Linked DNA regions of Homo sapiens: region 2 is linked to region 1. Evidence: fine-mapped expression QTL. A gene starts in region 1. The other region holds a variant in brackets. All regions are shown on one strand. Distances are from middle to middle.

What was found. PIP is the estimated chance that this variant, and not a neighbour inherited with it, causes the effect. A credible set is the group of variants that fine-mapping cannot tell apart.
Region 2: its variant is the best candidate, but not a certain one, in a credible set for the expression of MBOAT1 in liver (GTEx, PIP 0.56).

The regions. Positions count from the first base shown.
Region 1 is chr6:20,211,301-20,214,302 of GRCh38, reverse strand. MBOAT1 (membrane bound glycerophospholipid O-acyltransferase 1) reads left to right here and starts at 1,834. Exons shown (of 13, transcript NM_001080480.3): 1 at 1,834-2,167. The coding sequence starts at 2,069. RefSeq lists an enhancer at 806-1,306 and a silencer at 1,489-2,028.
Region 2 is chr6:20,158,908-20,161,407 of GRCh38, reverse strand. The region is part of intron 1 of MBOAT1 (membrane bound glycerophospholipid O-acyltransferase 1); the gene reads left to right. Among named protein-coding and RNA genes, the nearest start is that of MBOAT1, 52 kb to the left of the region's middle. The variant C/T (reference allele first, on the strand shown) is at 968.

The sequences.
Region 1 (3,002 bases):
TTAAAAGAAAAATTTAGACTAGGTTATGAACTGTGTTTTGTTAGGGAGAAAAAAACCTGTGTAAGGCTAATACATGTATATATTTTACATATACATATATACATATGTATATATCAAACCTGTGTTATATATATATATAAAAACTGTGTAATATATGTATATATAAACCTGTGTAAGGCTAATATATGTACATATAAAACTTTACATATATAAATATATTTATATATGATTATATAAATTAATATATTTATAATAAATATATATACACACGCACACACACACACATATATATATATGGCCTATGTGAGGACTATTCTTTGAAGTCTAAAAGGCATAGCTTTGTGAAAATTATAAAGGGTCTGAGGCACTTGCTCCAGAAATACTTCCCAAACTGACCTACTTCTGTTTTCCAGCAACTCATATCTGAGTGTTGATTTTTTTTTCCTTTTAAACAAAGCTCCGTCTGCTCTCATATACCTCACTTCAGCTGTCATCTAGCTCCAGATAAGATGAATGTTGCTCCAATGCTGGTCATTTTCCAGGACTCTATGATATTAAATGAACCTATCTAGCCTAGTGATCCTCAAGTATATGCCTGTGTGCGTGTGTGCATGTGTCTGTCTGTCTGTAGTGTGGGTTTGCTTGTGAGTGGTAGAGATTATCATCTGGTGGTGACATCTCCATTCGGTTAGCTTGTGGGAGTGGTGGTACAGACTTTTTTTTTTCCTCCTCCACAGGGGACATAGGTTGAGAAACTCTGGCCTGGCAATTTAATGCTCAGTGCAGTTTGATGGTGATAAAACTCCTGAAGAAGGCAAGAGTGAGGCCTGAGTCTTGGAGAGTAAGTTGTTGCCAGTGCCTGACAGGCCTTCGGTTTAATTTGAAGCTGGAGGCCACATTGATAAAGTCGGCCCCGAAAGTCATTGCCTGTCTGATCGAATGCCGGTTTACCCAGCGGAGGCTGGGGGCCACGTGAGCTCACTTTCTTTGGTTTTCTACCCAGCAGCCCAGAATATTACCTTCCTGAAACCCTTTTTCATCAGCTAGCGATTCCTGAAAAGGATCTTCAAGATTTTTATGTTTCTCAGAACCTAGCAATAACTTGGAAAAGTTTTCCAAGTAACATTGATGTGTGGGTGTTCGGGGGCAGACAAGTTAAGGAGCAAGGCACCCTTTTTGAGGACCCGTGGCATGCAAATGACTTATCAGAATGCACATAGTATGACAGTAAACACCGTTTCTTACAGAGGTGAAATAACTCTCACTCCACAGAGACGGAAGTGACCCGAAGCTAGCAGTCCCCTGTATTTGCTTGTGTGACACCGAACATGTCAGATCAGGGTGTAGGAAACTATGCCTAGCGCAGAGGAGGGTAAAGGAAGTAGGGAGTCTGGTGGCTGCGGCGCTCCAGCTTCCAGCCACCGGCAGAGGAACCCTCTACGGCTTGAAAGGGAAACGCAGCCACTCAGCCGCTTCGACTGCGGCGGCGAAACCAAAACAGGGTGGGGCGGGGTGGGTGGTGCTCTCTAGTGGAAGGCGCCCGCTGGGTGAGGTCGTTTTGTCTGGCGGGGGGCTAGGACGGTCAGCCCGGGAGGAGGAAAGGCGCGTCCCGCCTCCAGCTGCAGGGCCAGGCGGCGGCGCCCGCTGGCGTCGCTTTCCCTCTCCCGGTCGGCCTCGGTGCAGGCCAGGCTGGGCGGGCCGGGCGGCGCTTGGGGGCCGGGCTCGGAGTCCCCACTTTTCCTCCCTCCTTCCCTCCTCTCGGGGCCGTCCCGAGCGGCCGGGCCAATGGGCGCGGAGAGGAAGGGAGCGGGAAGCGGGGCGCCTTGGGCCCGGCCCTCCTACGGCGCCCGTGGCTGCAGCGCCAGCGCCAAAGCCAAGTTTGCGCCTCGAGAGTTTGCGCCTCGAGAGTTTGCGCCGGTTCGCATTCCCCGGCCTCCCGTTCGCTCCCCCGCGAACCAGGCGGCCGTGCGCCTCTCGGGGCAACCACCCAAGAGCACCCGGGCGGGAGGACGCCGAGCAGGGGGTGTTGCGGGCTGGGACAGGGGCAGCCACCTCCCGAAGATGCAGGATGGCAGCAGAGCCGCAGCCGTCCAGCCTTTCCTACCGCACCACGGGCTCCACCTACCTGCACCCGCTCAGCGAGCTCCTGGGCATCCCGCTGGACCAGGTAACTGCAGGCCGGGAGCGCAGCGACCCCAGCTCCCCAGCGATCGCGTGCACGGGGCGGGCGAAAGTGTTAGCCACCGTCCCTCCGCCTCCATGGCGTATTTTACAGCCACACACTAGACAGTTGGTTTTTGTGTGTGTGTGTGTGTGTGTGTGTGTGTGTGTGTTTTCCCTTCTTGAGTTGGTGTTAGTGTTTTTCTCCTTGTAAGTGTGAAAAAATATTGGTACAGCCTGCGCGGCAAGTTCTACTGAACTTTTTTTTCTTTAAGTTTGGGATTGCCTCGTTTCCTGTAATCAAGTTCTGAAGTAGTCTGATACATGAAACCAGTGTTTCTTTCATCAGTGTCCTCAAGTCGTTATTGTTTTTAATTTAGATGACCCTACTTAAAAAACAAGCGCGATGAATCTGTAGACGGTAGTCTATAGATTTTGAATGCAGGACCTGGGTTTTAGACTTCTGAGGCGAGGCTTGTTCAGGGGTGACAGTTATTTTGTACCGTGTGTGATGCGGGACACACAAGGACACTTTGGTTTTCCCAGGGTTCGGTTGGCTCATATGCCTGGGGCTGGAGCTTCTGAGTAGGACAGGTTAGGGGGAGGAGAGGGGCCCCAGTGAAGTTATTTGAACTGTCCAGGAATTATCTACAACCATTAAAATTAAAAATGGCAACAACAGTGATTCCTGGCAAGAAACCTTCCTGAAGATGAAGCCCGTCTTACTCATTTCCTTGTCTCTTCAGGTGCTGCAGGCTAGATCTGCGGGATACTTAGTAGTGACCCAATCAGTAAATGTTGATTTAAATAGAATTGGGCAGGGCATGCTGGGGGAGGACCCA
Region 2 (2,500 bases), 53 kb after region 1:
AGCTCATTACATTTATTGTGCACTTTATTTCTATTCTTATTACAGTGTAATATATAATGAAATAATTATACAACTCACCATAATGTAGAGTTAGAGGGAGCCCTGAGCTTGTTTTCCTGCAACTAGATGGTCCCATCTGGGAGTGACGGGAGACAGTGACAGATCGTAAGGCATTCGATTCTTATAAGGAGCGGCAGCCTACATCCCTGGCATGCATGGTTCACCATAGGGTTTGCACTCCTATGAGAATCTAATGCTGCTGCTGATCTGACAGGAGGTGGAGTTCATGTGGTAATGCAAGCGATGAGGAGTGACTGTAAATACAGATGAAGCTTCTCTCAGTCACCTGCCACTCACCTTCTGCTGTGTGGCCTGGTTCCTAACAGGCCATGGACCAGTACTGGTCTGTGGCCCGGGGGGTTGGGAACCCCTGAATTAGAGGTCTTTTGGGCAATAAATTGTGTACATTGATTATCAATCTTAAGTAATATTTGCTTATCCACAAACTGGGAAAAAGAAGGCTCTTTAGAGATTTAAAAATACTTCCTGCTGACATTCTGAGGAGTGTGGAATGAAAGTGTAACAAAGGATCCCTTTGAAAGTGTAAAGTAAATCAAGGGTATTCTACAGTCACTTTTTGTTCTGTGGTACAGGAAGGAATAGCGTTTTTAGTACTCTTTCCCAGCTACATTTATTTGTAGGGGGCAATGCAAAAGAGTACTGTTTGTGCTGGAAGAATGGCTGCCATTAAATAAGGAATTGTTTAACTTGATTGGTTTTGCCTTGGAGCGTGTAAGGCAGTGTTGCCGAATGTTTATTTTCTTGTTATTAAGCAGTTGGAGTTCTTTGCATATTTTGAATATGAGCCCCTTATGATTTGCAAATATTTTCTCCCAATCTGTGGGTTGTCTCTTCACTCTGTTAATTTTTTCCTTTGTTGTACAGAAGCTTTTTAGTTTGTTACACT[C/T]GACATTCCAGGCCTGGACAGTTGCCTGTTGCTCATTGGTGAGCCACTGGTAAACCACTGCAGTAGGGGAAATACTTTTGGACCGTTAATATTTGCTATTTGTTAAAAATAGCCTGTTTGCATCTCTTGGTTAGGAGAAAGGCAGTGTTTTTAATTCCTGGCAAAGTGTGCTGTTTTGTTGGAAGAGTATGAAGGCCATGGAACAGAAATCCCCAAATAATGTCTTTCTAGCAGCACATTAGGGTAGATTTAAGACTTGCGTTTGAAAATTGTAGCACAGTTTGATTGTGGTTTGATGAAATAAGAAGTCAAACACTTGGGCATGTGTTTTATTTCTTTGCGGCGACTTTGAAATCTTGCAAGAGCTGTGGAAATTGAGCTTTTGCTGAATCTGAGCTATGTCAGTCTTGCTTGTTTATAGGAATCTGATCAAAATAGCTGTGCTCTACTGTCCCCTCATGCATAAAGGCCCACACAATACTTTAATTGTTGAGAGCACATTGCTGGATGTCATGAATGAAAATGCCACTTTATTTGCTGCTCTGGAGGGAGTGGATCAGTAGAAAAGTAAACTTTGTATATATTCCTTTTAAATGTGAAGGGTTTATTAAGGAACATCATGATACATATGTTTTGTAAGTTTTATTTTATTTTTAATTGACAAATAATGTATATGTTTATAGGGTACAATGTGATGTTTTGATACATATGTATATTGTGGAAGGATCAAATCAGGCTAATTAACATAACCTATCACCTCAAACAGTAACTTTGTACCCATTGATCAATGTCTCCCCTTTCTTCCTCTACTTCCTTCCACCCCCAGCCTCTGGTAAACACTGTTAAACTCTCTGCTTTTTCGACTTTTTTAGATTCCACATGCACTTAAGATCATACGGTATTTGTCTCTCTGTGCCTGGCTTATGTCATTTAACACAATGTCTTCTAGGTGTATCATGTTGTCGCAAATGACAGAACTTCCTGCTTTTTAAAGGCTGAGTAGTATTCCATTGTGCATCTATACTACATTTTAAAAATCCATTCATCCCTTGATGGCACTTAGGTTGCTTCCATATCTTGGCTATAGTTCTCATAGGGTGTACACTCCTATGAGAATCTAATGCTGCTGCTGATCTGACAGGAGATGGAGTTCAGACGGTAATGCAGGCGATGGGGAGTGGTATAAATACAGATGAAGCTTCTCTCGGTCACCTGCCACTCACCTTCTGCTGTGTGGCCTGGTTCCTAACAGGCCATGGACCAGTACTGGCCCATGGCCTGGGGGTTGGGGACCCCTGAATTAGAATTGCAGTGAGCATGGGAGTGCAGATGTTTCTTCAACATACTGATTTCAGTTTCCTCGGGCATATACCCAAAAGTGTGATTGCTGGATCATGTGGCAAATTCTAGTTGTAGTTTTTTGAGGAACTTCCATACCGTTTTCCATAATGGCTGTACTGATTTACATTTCTCCTGACAGTGTGCTGGCGTTCCCTTTTCTCCACAAGCTCTCCAAGCACTTGTTATCTTTCA